2 separate regions of the Homo sapiens genome follow, and region 2 is linked to region 1. Evidence: fine-mapped expression QTL. Tissue or cell type: nasal epithelium. Region 1 holds a variant in brackets; the other region holds the start of a gene. All regions are shown on one strand. Distances are from middle to middle.

Region 1 (8,000 bases):
ACCTGTTACATGAGTCTTTAGAGATTAGAGATTCTACTGCTTCTCATAATCCTGACTGAAAGTTGTAGATCAATAAAGTACTTTGTGACTAATTGCTTAAAGTGCTTTTATTTTAAAGCATGAATTTACAAGTTTACTTCAATAGGAGCAACTTGCATATACATCCAAGGGAGGCAATTTCTTCCACCACTACGTTCACAAACTCTAAGTAGATGAAGCTAGCTCTCTCCACATATCCCATCAAATAACCCCCCATCATAGCCAGCCAAAGTTAGGTATTGACATGTACATAGCAGAGAAAGAAATAACGTGGAAAGACTTTTGTAAGAAGCCAAGAGACTTTCTCACCCCAGGTTAAAGCATAGCTGAATATGTGGAATTGATTTCTATCTTGGCTGATTCTTAGGCCCAATCAACATAGCTACTACCAACTCTCTAAAGCCTCTTAAAGATTTGGTGGCTTCAAGCTAAAAGATGAGATGGAAAAACATTTATTTCTGGGGGCATTTGGTAGCTCCAATTCAACTCAGTTTACAAATTTGTTGAACAGTGTTTACAAAATACCATCAGGGATATCTATAGACTCCTAGAATTTTGGATTATGCATACCACCAGCATTTGATGACTTGTTCTTCTGTAACAGATACTTACATGGTGAATATTATTTAGGTTGGTAAAGATTGTAAGTGGGTTTAGTCTCCACGAAAAAAACGAAGAGAAAAAAAATCAAAGGAAACTTACTTTCCTAACTCTTCTCGCATCCTCCCTAGATGGAAACTCATACAAAGAAGTGCCCTCTGCATTGAAGAGTTTGTTGATTATAAACACTAAAATTGGGTCTTAGAGTCTATAGAAACTTGTGATATTTGCAGTCTCTAGGTTAGAAACAGTTCATAGCTCTTGCTATGTTTGAATATGCAAAGTGTGCACAATTTGGGAAGTTTTAAGATCTACAATGGATGCTTAGCCATGGTGTTTCAGGATGGAGAGTCACAATTCATCAAAATAGGCTGGTCACAGTGGCTCACACCTGTAATCCCAGCACTTCGGAAGGACAAGGCAGGTGGTTCACCTGAGGTCAGGAGTTTGAGACCAGCCTGGCCAACATGGTGAAATCCTGTCTCTACTAAAAATACAAAAATTATCCAGACGTGGTGGCGTGTGCCTGTAATCCCAGCTACTGGGAAGGCTGAGCCAGGAGAATCGATTGAACCCAGGAGCTGGAGGTTGCAGTGAGCCGAGATTGCACCATTGCACTCCAGCCTGGGTGACAGAGCAAGACTCTGTCTCAAAAAAAAAAAAATAAAATAAAATAAAATAAAATAATAATAATAATAAAAAAATAAAAAATTCAACGAAACAAAAATGATAACAGGGTTTGTGCTCCTCTACATCTTTTGATTTTTTAAGCATAGATACTTACTTCAGTTATATATTTATACTGGATTTTAAATAAAATAACTTCTCATTATTCTTGGAGTCCCAATGTCTATTATTTCTCCTTTATAGTATTAGCAGCCCTTTACTTTGAAATCCCCACGGGTATAGGACTTGTGCAGGCCTTGCTGCTGGATTCTTTTTAGATTATCTTCTACTGCTGGTTTTATCACAGAGAATAGTAGTAAAAAGATAATCTTATTTCTTACAAATGCTGCTCACACTTCTTACTACCACACTACTCAGCCACCCCTGAAGAACTGAATTTCAAATACTAGTAGCTTGTTAGAGAAGGAAGATGAAAAATGTCATGTTTACTCCACATTTCCCAACTGGAAACTTCACTGTTGTGCTTTTCCAGATGACTAGGAATGCTCCCGCCCTTTCCAATCAATAGATACTTTCCCCTTTGAGTCAGAGCCTTAGCACCATGTTACCAAACTCTTCAACTTAGTAATAAAATTCATGGCTCTGGGGTTGAAAGCCCAGCTCTGTCACTTAGATGGTGTATGACCTTGGGTAAAAAAAAAAAAGTGTTGAAAGGATAAGATGATAAAATATGTGAAGCACTAAGCACAGTGCTTGGTACACAGTAAGCATTTTCTGAATGTTTACTATTGTTTTTACTGTTGCTACTAATATTGTTCTTAATAATTATAAACTTAAGTTATTCCTCCTTACTAAGTTATGCTCTTATGCTATTTCCTGCACAGATAACTTATGATTAGATAATTTGAGCTATAGTAACACTTCATGCTAAAATACATATAGACAGATTATTGATATGGCTGGTGAGGCCTCACAATTATGGCAAAGTCATGGCTTACATGGTGGCAGGCAAGAGAGCTTGTGCAGGGGAGTTCCCATTTATAAAACCATTGGATCTCATGAGACTTATTCACTACCATGAGAACAGCATGGGAGAAACTGCAACCATGATTCAATTATCTTCACCTGGCCCCGCCCTTGAGCTGTGGGGATTATTATTATTATTGAGACGGAGTTTCTCTCTTTTTGCCCAGGCTGGAGTGCAATGGTGCAATCTCGGCTCACTGCAACCTCTGCCTCCCTGGTTCAAGCAATTCTCCTGCCTCAGCCTCCCCAGTAGCTGGGATTACAGGCATGCGTCACAACACCCAGCTAATTTTCTGTATTTTTAGTAGAGACGGGGTTTCTCCTTGTTGGTCAGGCTGATCTCAAACTCCCGGCCTCAGGTGATCCACCAGGCTCTGCCTCCCAAAGTTCTGGGATTACAGGCATGAGCCACTGCACCTGGCTGACATGTGGGGCTTATTATAGTTCAAGGTGAGATATAGGTGGGGACACAGCCAAACCATATCAATTTCCTAGAGCCATTCATTATAAAGATGAATTATACATGTTTATCCTACATGTATATATCTAGTCCATATTTAGTCAGATAGAAGAATTTAAAATATAAATGTGGTTGTGTATTACATCATTTTAAGGTTATTGCATAAAGAGCCAGAATTTCCCAGCTGGACATGGTGGCTCATGCCCGTAATCCCAACACTACTGGAGGCCGAGATGAGCAGATTGCTTGAGTCCAGGAATTCAAGACCAGCCTGGGCAACATGACGAAACCCCATCTCTACAGAAAATATAAAAAAGTACCTGGGCATGGTGGTGTGCTTGTGTAGTTCCAGCTACTTGGGAGTCTGAAGTTGGGAGGATCAACTGAGCCCAGGAGGTGGAGGCTGCAGTGAGCCATGATGGCACCATTGCACTCCAGCCTGGGTAACCAGAGTGGGACCCTCTCTTAAAAAAAAAAAAAAAAAAAGCAGAATTAAAATTGGACATTTTTTTATATTCATGTTTGGGCCCATTAAAAAAAAAAGAGAACAATGAAAAATTATAGGTGAGAGATTTCAGATAAGTGGTAAAATTACATAATATGAATGCCTTGTTTTTTTCTGACATTCTTAAAGTTAAGCAACTTGAAAAATAATTTGTTAGTAGTAGTATTATGTTATAAAATTCCACATTGAAAGTAGATCCTTCAATTAATTTTTTAACTTGTAAATTGAGAAATGGTAACAAACCAGAAAATTTAAGAATTGTTTTTTAAATGATTTCTGTAGTAGTCTGTTCTCACACTGCTAATAAAGACGTACTTGAGACTAGGTAATTTATAAAAGAAAGAGGTTTAACGGACTCACGGCTCCACATGTCTGAGGAGGCATCACAATCATGGCAGAAGGCAAAGGAGAAGCAAAGGTGTGGCTTACATGGCGGCAGGCAAGAGAGGCAAGAAGCAGGAGACCTCCCATTTATTAAACCATCAGATCTCGTGAGACTTATTCACTACCGTGAGAACAGTATGGGGAAACTGCCCCCATGATTCAATTATCTTCACCTGGCCCTGCCCTTCACACGTGGGGATTATTAAGTTCAAGGTGAGATATGGGTGGGGACACAGCTAAACCATATCAACTTCTTAGAGCCATTCATAATAAGGATGAATGATACATGTTTATTTGACACGTATATATCTAGTGTACATGTATAGGAGAGTGAAAATTAATGGTTTATGTTTAGAACAATGCACCTCAGGATTTTTTGTTTTTGTTTTTACATGATTATCATCATCAAAACAAATTCAATCATATTCAACATTCTCCATTCAGGCACAGAAATGGATTTATGTATTGACATTTTTACTAAAGGCAATTGAAGTTTGTTTTGTTGTTGTTGTTGTTTGTTTGTTTTCTTAATCCAGCTTTACAAAGAAAACTCAATCAACCAGAATAGTTTATTCAGATTATTTAAAGGAAAGCCAAAATGTTTGCATCATTTTACAGATTATTTTTTCCAAGTTTTAGCTTTTGAAACTCACTTAGGTAGATAGTTAAAATCAATATTCTACAGTTAATTTGTCCTATTTATAAAGATAAAGAATATGTGAATTTTTGGCATTTCTCTCACACTCAAGTGCAGCCATCACCCGAATAGTGTACATTATACCCATTAAGTAATTTCTCATCCCTTACCTGCCTCCAAACCTCCTACCCTTCAGTATCTCCAACATCAGACTCAATTTTCACCCCATTTTTCATCCTAATTGAGAAATCAGAGCAGCCCCATGTTGCCTTTCACATCAACTTGCCTCTACGAGCCAAATCTGATCATTTCCATGGCTGATTCCTGCTACTCTTTACAAGAGATAAAGTGTGATTTGAATGGTCTTAACTTC[A/T]CCACTCCAGAGCTTCTCTCTCCATTGCCACCCCCAACTTCTCTACCTTCAATCAATGCCTGTGCATTCTTATCATCTCCCTGCTCTCAGAGCCTGCTTTCTTTTAAGAAGATCTGCGATTCAGTCACAAAGTTCCCTTCTAGGAATAATAACATTTTAATAGGTGTCAGAGCCTTCCTCTAAAAGAATGACACTCTGATGGAGAAATAATTGCTTCAACCAGTGGGTAGGAGCTCACAGTAGTTTTCTCAGCTGGGCTTCATTTCTTTCCTGGCATATCATTTTTCTTTTCAACCCTCTGCCTTTGCTCAGGCTCCACCGTACCTCCTCATCCCTTCACTAACAGCATACTCCTACCTGTGTGCCAACAAAACATATACAACCTTCAGACCCAATTTTAGAAAACTCTTTCAAGGAGCCAGCTGAACTACCTCCCACATTGTTAAACTATTTCAGTGTAACTTAAACACTAAGATTTCTGGCTATCTGACAAGGTATTAGCTTCCCCAAGTTGAGTATAATTTCACTGATTTGCAGATGAATATACATATAAATTTTTCATTTTCCGTAGATCACCTGTAAAACTCTCTACATATCTAGATGCCTAGCACATATGCATTGGGTGTAAGTCTAAAGCTTGCTAAAGTAAATTGTTGTATTTTCCTCAAAATCAGATGTTTCTGTTTTTCTTTAATGAACCAATACATAATTTACCTATTTCTTGATTTGTGTCTTATGTAACACTTTAAGGTATTACTTGCTCTAATTTTACAGGGTTGGAGCTAGCACATTTTGGAATTAAGTGGAATTTTGTTTTCACAGCCTTCTTTTTCTTCTGCCTAGTGTGCAGTCCTGTCTTCTCTTACTGTTGCCTTCACGCATACTGCAAAGTAAACGAACACATACAACTGCTTCTTCTCCAAATGCATTAAAATTAAGAGGAAAAAAATAGGCTGGGCACAGTGGCTCACACCTGTAATCCCAGCACTTTGGGAGGCTGAGGCGGGTGGATCACCTGAGGTCAGGAGTTCAAGACCAGCCTGGCCAACATGGCGAAACCCCGTCTCTACTAAAAATACAAAAATTAGCTGGGCCTGGTGGCAGGTACCTGTAATCCCAGCTACTTGGGAGGGTGAGGCAGGAGAATCACTTGAACCTGGGAGGCAGAGGTTGCAGTGAGCCAAGATGATGCCATTGCACTCCAGCCTGGGCAACAAGAGCGAGACTCCATCTCAAAAAAAAAAAAAAAAAAAAAAAAAGAGGAAAAAAATAGGGAAAGTATTTCCCCTGGTATTAAAATAGATTTCTTTATCCCAGCATGTAAGGCAAACTACATTATATGGATGCCAAAACACCAATTAAAATCAGAATATCTGATTTATCCTACATTACATTTTTCCAATGACTGTAACTTTAATCTTTGATCACCAATTTATTCTAGTTATCTGCAACATAAACTATATAAATGGTCTAAAAGTAAAGCTGAAGCAACCTAGAGATATGCCTAAGGAAATACTATTATACATAGCAAAGGTAATATTCTTCTTATGAAAAAATAAGAATGCAGTGTTACTCAGAGCTAATATTTCTGTTGAAAAGACTGCACAAACCAATTTTGTGGTATTTTTCAAACACCATTTATTATTGCTGTTAAATTTAAAAAATTAACTGGGGCATTGCTCTGAGGAATAGCTTGTGATTCTGTCTCCCAAATTCACCTAGGCTATTTTGCGTTGGAATAGTCAGCTACCCCTCTAATCATGTCTTTCTCATCTCTAAAATGAGAATCATAATGATGATTTTCCCACTTACATGCAGGGATTGTTGGGCTAGATAAGTCAAAAATAACGAGTGCAAAATAAGCTATTAAATCATTTTGTTTTTTATATCTACATGAGAAATGATCTTTTAATTATGGATTTGAGGTATTAGAAAAATACAAAAAGAACAACAAATTTATTTCTGTGGTAGGAAAATTACTATTGAGAACAAAACTAATTTTTAAAGGAGTATATTTAAAGTCTATTTAAAGAAAAATATTAGGTAAGCGAGAGGACAGGTGGCATATGAATACAGCAGAATTGGTGAGGGTAGGTTACTCATGATTGTAGCTTGGGAAACAGTCAAACTAGAGGCCAAGATTCTGGTTGTCCTTTGTCAGAGGATCCAGCCCCTTGCTGGCTTTAAGACTTTGGGCAGATAGTTTTCAAGCTATGTCTCAGCTTCCACAATTGTTCAACCTTACTTTATAAGATTGCTGTGAGGGGGGCAGGGCGTGGTGGCTCACACCTGTAATCCCAGCACTTTGGGAGGCCAAGGCAGGTGGATCACCTGAAGGTCAGGAGTTCAAGACCAGCTTGGCCAAAATGGTGAAACCTGTGTCTATGAAAAATGCAAAAAAACAAAAAACAAAAAAATTAGCTGGGTGTGGTGGCAGATGCCTATAGTCCCAGCTACTTGAGAGGCTGAAGCAGGAGAATCGCTTGAACCCAGGAAGCGGAGGTTGCAATGGGCTGAGATTGCACCATTGCACTCCAGCCTGGACAACAAGAGCAAAACTTTGTCTCAAAAAATAATAATAATAAGTTTGCTGTGAGGATTCAGGGAAGTGAGGTGAGTGAAGCACTTAGAATAGTGTCTGCCACCTAGTTGGTGTTCACAAAGTATTGATTATTATTGGTATATTTTCAATTGTATAATAATTTATCCTAACAGGTTATTTCTCAGATAGTTAGTGAGACCCTGACTGGAGGACAAAAGTCTCTAATATCCACTTGATAGTGTGTTTGGTGTAATTCCCTGCAAGTCTTATTCACAGCACCATGAGTCTAACACATTATGATTCTAATATGGTAAAAGTGAGCTTAAATTGCAATCTAAAAGCCTAGATTAGCTAAATTTAGAGGATTTCTGTTGGTTTTGGTAAGTCTGTCTCTCCTATAACAACTATCCCCTCCCTGCTCCTTGAAGAATTGAGACTCTATTTACAAACCAAACCCATAAAATTTCTATCATTTTACAAATTATTTTGTTAGATTTGAACTTTTGAAACTGGTTGAGATGAACACCTAAAACTCTTTGAACTGAACAGAATTATTGATGTTCCTTTATTTTCACTGTTTTTCCTGGCTGACAAACAAGTTTATATGCAATTTCTTTGAACAGACCACTTGCATTCATTCCTAATGAGCAGCTTTCTATATATATGACATTGCAAATCCTTTCAGTAAGATGAAATTCAAAAGTGACGTTACTGGTCTTCTTGAAGTACCAGTGAATTAAAAGCCAACCGTCTTGACTTCAGGTTATCTATTTATGATCTGCATTGTAGAAAGTCAACCGATTATTC
Region 2 (8,000 bases), 170 kb after region 1:
CGAGAAGACTTATCTTTATACTTGTATTTATTTTAGAATTATAATTACATATCATTTGCACCTCTTATTTAACCAAATATAAGTAAGTTAAGATTTATTGAGATAATATATTTGAAAATAATTTTAAATGCAATGGCACCCTAAAGTTATAGGATCAAATTATAATTATTCATTTTCAACAGAAATAAATTAGCTTACTTATTTTCCATCACCTGAAAATTTTCTTGGATTTGGGCTAAATGATGAATAGCCTATTAGTTTACGTTCTTTTTATATGTTTCTCTAATTAGAAAAGAGTCTGAAAAAGTCAAGGACTATTTCACCCTGGTATTCTTAGATCACTCGCTACAGTCTATTATTAGACATATTATGTTTCCACTGTTTAAACTCCTTTTGTCCACCCATTATTGTTTATACCTGCAAAAAAATCCAACACCAAGTTCTGCCTGGTTGCAAATTAATGTCATGACCTTTCCTATCCTACTTGTATATCCAGAAGCAGCACTTAAATGTGAGACTAAAAATCACCCCGCTTCAATAAGTAAATAATGTTTGTGGATTACAGATCATAGTCTTTTATCCGGAATAATAATGCGGTTTTCATTTTTACAGGAAATGGAAAATAAAACCTCAACAAATGGATTCAGCCATTCAGAATGGCTCTCAAATAGGCAGTGCTGAAAATTGATCTGGTTACTTGTCAATTGCATTATTCAGAGATGACGTCATCAGCAAAGCTGAAGCCAACGCTGGGTCATTGCCCACCCCATGTCAACCTTTTCCATATAAAAAACTTACTCTGTAAAGATATAAGCATCTCTAGGGCTGTAATTTGAGCTTTTAAACCTAATTAAACAGCTTTCCACCAGCCTCATTAATAAGCAGTAATCCAGGTTCCATACAAACACCTGAACATATGACAGCCAGTGCTAGCAAAATATTTCATAGCATATCATCACTTATGATATTCTAGAGGAAATACAGGCTGTGGCTTGAGATTATTCCTGTAATATTTATTTCTGATTCTGTTTACGATCCATTTTATAGATTAGCTTTCTAGAGTATTGCTAACTGTGAAATCCTAAATTGAAACTTTTCAGTACGACATGTACTTTGATGTTCTTTAAACAATTCCATTCTGTTCCATCAGTGTGAAACACATCATGCTTCTTTACCTGGGGGGTTATGCTCATTGAGAATCACAAGTGATGCTGGTGTAGGTCTTCTTTTCCTGATCTGTGAACGACAAAAGCCCAGCTAATATCAGTGAGTATTAGACACTGCTCCAGGTTACTCTGCAGCTTGCAAAGCTGTCTCACCCTCATCTTTTCCCCACATGCAAAAGCAAATTTCTGGAGGACACATGGAAGGTGCTCACTAATTTTATTTTGAAATAATAGAAAGCCACAGAATTGAACTGTCTGATAGAAGTATCACCCTCTTTGACCAAAAAGCTACATTTCCACGGAAAAGAAATAATTATATACAACTGAATGATACAACAGAAAATTAATTTACAATGAAGGTACAGGGTTGACCTGATAATGTTAGTGGCTTGCTTGGAGCCTCATAACATTGGTGGTGCTTTCAAGATTCATTACCCTTATTTTTAAACAGGATAAGGAAGAGCTTGGAAACCTATTTCTAGCAGGTACCAGAGTTAAATCAACAGCATAAGCTTTGAATTTCAATTAATTTTGTTAACTTTTTTATTTTCTAGTATAATATTTAGAACAAATAAACAAATGAAGAATAAATATGGATCTTATGAGAATATGCAACTTATTACAAACTCTAAAGTTTTTTTTTTTCATTTTAAGAGTTACAGGAGCATAGTATTGTCAGAATCCCTTGAATATAATATCCTTTATTTGTTTATTATATTCATTTATGGGTAAATACCCAAAGTAAGTGTCAGTAGGATAGATAATAAAATTTATCAATGACATCCTGTCCAAGATAGAAGCAACATCCCATTCAGCATGGATAGACACATGTTCAAGGATACATTTATCTGGCCTGAGTCTAGGTGCATCTACCTCAGATTTCAAAACATCCTGAAACACTATGAGTCACGGATTAAATAATTATTTTTAAGACTTTATATCAAATACTTGGAAAAGGATTCAAGAATAATTTAAGTTTTAAGAAATGAATGGATTAGGTTGATGTCCTCATAAATTTCTTTGCTTTTGCCTCCTCACAGTTGCAGTTCTAAGAGATGCCATTGCATCAAGAATCTAAGTAAATCTGAATATGAAAGGTGATACAGATGTAAACCAATATTAGACATGGACAAAGAATCTAGGAAATGTTAAAACACTGTTTGTAATGTCTGAACAAAACGATTTTAAAACTGTACAAAAAGCTACAAATCCTAGCTGTAATATATTATATAAACTTATAATCATTGTTTTGTGTCCACAATAATAAAACATATGAAAATAAAGTATTAGGCCTATAGTCTCAAACTATTGCAGGATTTAATGATTTTATTGCTAAATCAATCATTTTATTTTATAAAAAATGAAATAAAATGTTGCTCATTTTGATAATTTTTAAAAGTTGCTCTAAATGTTGAAACTGTTATTTTAATGAGCAAAAATGAACAGATTTATGAATCCATATCTGAATTGCTTACAGAGCCATTTTCCCCTCAGAGGTGCTAATTTTGTATCAAATGAAGTGTTACATTTTAGACAATAGTTCTCCCAATGCAATTTAAATACAAGTATGTGTAAAAACCAACTTATTTCTTGTTTACATTATCTTGAAAGTCAGAGTTAGCAAAATCAAAAGGTAAAGAACCTTTCAATTAATAACCAGAATGCATGTTCATATTACCTTATGTACAGGAATGGTTCTCCATGCAATTTCACATACCTGCTCTGCTGCTTCAGGTGCAATCTGACTCTGGAATACAGGCACGGCAAACTGTATCTTTTTGGGACTGTTGGGCTCCATGGTAATGATGATAATTAGTCAGAGATGTGAAGAGCTCAGAAAGACTAACCCTAAGTGGTGTCCGGGATGTGTTTCCTCAGACACACTCCACTAAGCCACACAGAGTGCTTCGTAATAAATAGCTGTAATTCCAGATCGAGCAAGTGAAGATGCCGAGGTTTGAGTAACCCCCTTCTTCAACATCCACGGTGATGCCTGGCTTGCCTGTTCCCCCACCAATCCCTTGGATCCTCTCAGCACAATACAGAAAGGAACAATACGCTAATTGTGTGCCTCTTCACTAATACACATGCCAAGCATTCACTCAGCAGCTAATTGAAAATGCAATGCTAGCCTTGAAGGACCCACTGCCCTGGGATTTGAAAGAAAGGCTCTATCCACTGTACATTACTAACCGGCTGCTCAAAAGTGCAATGTAAGCTCCCTCTGAGTATTGCAGGGATGGGCCATTCATTATTGATGAACATCAAGCAGGAAGTTTTTAGAGTTGGGGGCAGGGTTTAGGTATGGAATCATTTCTCTCAGCAACTTATAAGTCAGATACCTTTGCTATTTCACATTCAGCCACGAAACAGTTGAATGGCCATGGAGGGTAAGCCACAACCAATAATATCAGCTATGTTTATGCTATAAGATCTGGTTAGTTTAAACTCATCCTAGGAGGCAGAGCATCTGTGGTGTAGTGAGGGCAGCATTACTGCAGGGCTGAGCAGATCTTAGTTCGAGTTCCATCTTCATAATTAACAAGCTCTGTGGCCTCCAGAAAATTACTGGCTACGTCTAGGCCTCCACACTTCCATCAGAAAAATGAGGGGATTGGACTCAATGACCTTTAAAGTCCCATCCTGTTCCAACATTCTAAAATTGCAGTTCACAGTTTTCATTAGAGTGGAAAGTATTGTGCTGCTAAATTTAGCAAACAGCTTGGAAGTCACTGCTGCTTCAATGACCTCTATTTTATTTCCTGGTGGAGCCAGTTACATTCTCTGACTTGGAAGAATATGACTGGAAAACATTAGTAGAAACCTAATGGTAGTCAACATTATGGCTTGTTGTCAACAGTAGAAATGTATGTAAAGATAAGGACTTGAAAAAAGCATGAAGTGGGTAATGTTCAGAGGGTTGATATTGGCTAGTGGTCAGGGAACAGTGGGACACTAGCCTGATTGCCACATTAGTTAATGTTAAAGGGGAGGTAGTAACATAGCCAGATGGCCTTCATGCATTCGAATACTTTTATGAAGGAAGTGTGAAAATGAAACTGCTTGAGATCTCTGCTTTCTTGAGAGGCATTATGTGATGAATACTAGATTTGTAAATATGTTTTTGGATGTACTTAATATATTTAGACATCGACTATGATTCCAGGTATTTACAATTGAAGTTTTTATTTTTTAAATTTTGATTCTGTACTAGGAATCCATCTTAATGATTTAAATAGGCAACATTCTGTTGAAGGAATATAGAAAGGAATATGCATTATTGAAGTAGTTTTCTATATTCACTAGGGGAAAAAGCAAAGATGTGGATGTGAAAGCACTTTTAGTGGAGAACAGTGCTGACTAGCAAGAAATCTTGTGATGAGTTTATCCGTGTAGTGTCGAAGGGAAATTTATAAATTACATTTTATGTAACAGTTTACAAAAGTCTCCAGAAATAAAATCTAAATTGATATCATTAATGAAGTTATTTCTTTGAATATATCTTCAAATTATATAAAAGGAAAGCAAGACAAGACAGTATTTTTAGTGAGGAGTTAATACAAAACTTCACATAATGTAATAATTAAGAACATGCACTTGGCAACCTTGAGTTCAAGCTCTAGCTCTGCTACTTACCAAGTTTATCAGTTTGGGCAGTAGGAGAACTTTCTTCTTGTGAGGTTTAGATTACTCAATTCCTGAAAAGAGCTCATTACAAGGCCAGCACGGAATCACTCAATAAAAGATAGCTATTATTTTTCTTTCAGCCAGATTTTTCAAAAGGCTTCAACATACACATTTTCAACCAGAATCACTAAGAATATCTATCTACTTGGAATAATTTGATTCCACTTAGAATAATAGGTGATAAAGTGAAATTTCATATATGTGTTTGGTATAAATACCAATAAAATGGTTCTCATTAACTAATTGCCCTATTTTGAATAGGTTGATCAGAGACAATATTGTAAATGGGCTATCTAGACCCTTTAAGCTTCTTGTTTTTTATGAGGCCAACTCCTGTGTGTCCATTAAGATTCAGTTAAGTATCATTGCTTCTAGGAAGCCTTTGTAGATTTACTGTTCTCCACATTGGGTTTAAACTCACCTCTCTGTATTCTTAAAGAATGAAGCATAACTCTATTTATCATAATAACTACCTACATGTCTTTTGAATGTTTAGTATTTTGCAACTTTATTTATTCACATAGCAAATATTTGTTGAGTAGATACTATAGTCTACTCCACACCAGGCCTTTTGCTATGGCACTAGAGGAGAGATTGTGTTAAAAGGTATTTGAAGTCCTTTTAAAGCTAAATTCTTACTTGAAGAACTACTTAAAATGCAACTTAAATGTAAAATAATCTAAAAAATGTTAATATAGAGTTTGCATGGGGGGTATAATTTTCCTAAATATTAAGTGCACATTTTTTTATCCCTATTAGAGACAAGAGTAATAATTAACCCTTATATGATACCATGTGCCAGGAATTATTCTAAGTGCTTTATCTGCATTAATTTATTCCGACAACTGTTTGAGGTAGATATTATTGCTATCCTCAATTTAAAATTAGGTAATCGGGAGTCAGAGAGTTTAGATAATTTGTCCGGGGTCATCCAGCTAATATATGGCAAAGCCCAGTTTCAAACCCGGGCAATTTTGCATAGGGCTTGGGCTTTTAATCACAACAGCATCATGATGGCCACTATAATATAAGGCCAGTAGAGAAGTCAGTGGCAGTCAACAGAATCTCCGCAGTGGTTAGAGGTTCTGACCACATCAATTCCATGGTAAAAGATCTTAAGATGACGTGGTATATGAATGAAAGAGAAGCAAGTAGCATGACTAGGATACTATTAATCAAGATACTCAATCATTGCAAATTAGATATCAATATAGAAAGGAGAGCCTAAAGTTGGATGTTGTACCACCAAACTGACTGAAAAAGGAATCCTCTCCGTTGCTCTTTAAAAGTAATGGGTTCAATCATTAAAGATTAAAAAGGCCTCTAGAACAAGCAACAACTATAGTCTCTCTTCAAAGTAAGTGATACTGGAGTAAAGATGGAAAAACATTAGGAAAATAGGCCATTAGGCCTTCCTGATTTTACACTATAATATCTATCTTGCCCTACTTTGCATGATTCCTCAAGACCCTCCTACAGGCTGCCGCAGTTCACCTTACCACCAGTCTTTCTGTGGCCTCCCCTACCTCCCTGGAAGCCATCCTGCCTCCCCGCTCCCTTTTTTAACCCAAATTATATTCATTCTCTAATTCCACCTCCTTAGAAAGAGACCTTCAGATTCTCCACACAAGAAGAATCACTCAATTTGTTCCCTCTCCTGGTATTTAATTATATATAGTTTTATGTTATTCTATAATAATTTCCTATGTGTTTCTTTTGCCTCTTCTCCTAGACTGCAAATCCCATCCTATCTTAAACATAAACATAACAAGCAAGATGCTCGTCATCTAGTAGTTACTAAATAAGTCCAATTAGGCTTTATCTAATACTATCAAGAAACGTAAGGTGTTCCAATAAACTGAATTTTCCAAAAGACTATGGCTCACCCTTTCAAGCCCTACACCTTGCTGTTAGTATTTCTTGCTATAGTAACTGCCTCCAAATACCATAGATACATAGTTCTTATGACTGTTTTTAGAGTTATTTTTCTTTATCTGATAACTGTCAATACTTGTTTTTTAATTGTTACCTGATATTAACAAGTGCTTTCTTTGAGGGAAGAGAAGGGAAAGAAAGGGGAAGAGAGGAGAGGGGTGGAGAGGGAAAAGCAAATTTTTAAACTTTTTAATGTATTTTCTATTCCAGGCTTTGTTTTAAATATCTTGAATTCATGAATCTTGAAAGTTATGCAGATATATGAGACGTGACTTTGTTTAACAATTGGTTGGCTAACTAAATGCCATCAAAAATAAAAGCAAATATGTATTACACATGACTACATTAAATGCTGGAAATACAATAATGAACAAAAGCAGAAAAAATACAATATCATCTAGATATGAGTCCATTGAAAAGATTTCTAGCCCTAATGCAATGATTTTCTGTCTCTTCTATTTAAAACCCAAATGCTGGCAGTCACATTTCAGATGCACTCCCTTGTATGTCCTCCTTCAATTCTAGTTGTAACTTCATTCATTTCCTCCATCAAAGAAAACAGATGCATGGGAGAGTGACAATATTATTGGGCTTTCATAGAATTATCTCAATTATATTCAATGTAACCTGTTGGAGAACTCCAAAACCTTCATATTAATATTAAATTATTACTGAACCATTGATACCTAATTGAGGCAAAGAGGCCTATCTATAAAATGTGGTCGAATCCCAGTAATATAAGTGAAATGAACCACTCTTTCCAAGTGCTCATTTAAATTAAATTTCCCCCATGGAAATTATTAGCCATATTTTAACTCTTTCAGAATGTCCTATAAGTTCAACCATGCAATTTTAAATATGATATTTTTTCAGATCTACAGCTATAAGAAGCCTTACCAGACTAAGCTCACTATATTGCAATCTCATATTAAAATCTGAATTCCCACAGCACTTAAGTATAAAATACTTGCAATCTCTATCAGGCTTAAAGGCAAACATCAATGATTCATTCATTCCACATTTATTTAGTGCCTACTGTGTTCTTTAAAACTTCTCCTTGGCCGGGCACGGTGGCTCACGCCTGTAATCCCAGCACTTTGGGAGGCCGAGGCGGGCGGATCACGAGGTCAGGAGATCGAGACCATCCCGGCTAAAACGGTGAAACCCCGTCTCTACTAAAAATACAAAAAATTAGCCGGGCGTAGTGGCGGG

The links. PIP is the estimated chance that this variant, and not a neighbour inherited with it, causes the effect.
Region 2: it holds the start of PPP1R1C, and the variant in region 1 is fine-mapped to the expression of PPP1R1C in nasal epithelium (TOPMed, PIP above 0.99).

The regions. Positions count from the first base shown.
Region 1 is chr2:182,150,323-182,158,322 of GRCh38, reverse strand. The region is part of intron 13 of PDE1A (phosphodiesterase 1A); the gene reads left to right. Among named protein-coding and RNA genes, the nearest start is that of PPP1R1C, 170 kb to the right of the region's middle. The variant A/T (reference allele first, on the strand shown) is at 4,652.
Region 2 is chr2:181,981,075-181,989,074 of GRCh38, reverse strand. PPP1R1C (protein phosphatase 1 regulatory inhibitor subunit 1C) reads right to left here and starts at 3,222. Exons shown (of 5, transcript NM_001080545.3): 1 at 2,884-3,222; 2 at 1,176-1,236. The coding sequence starts at 2,964.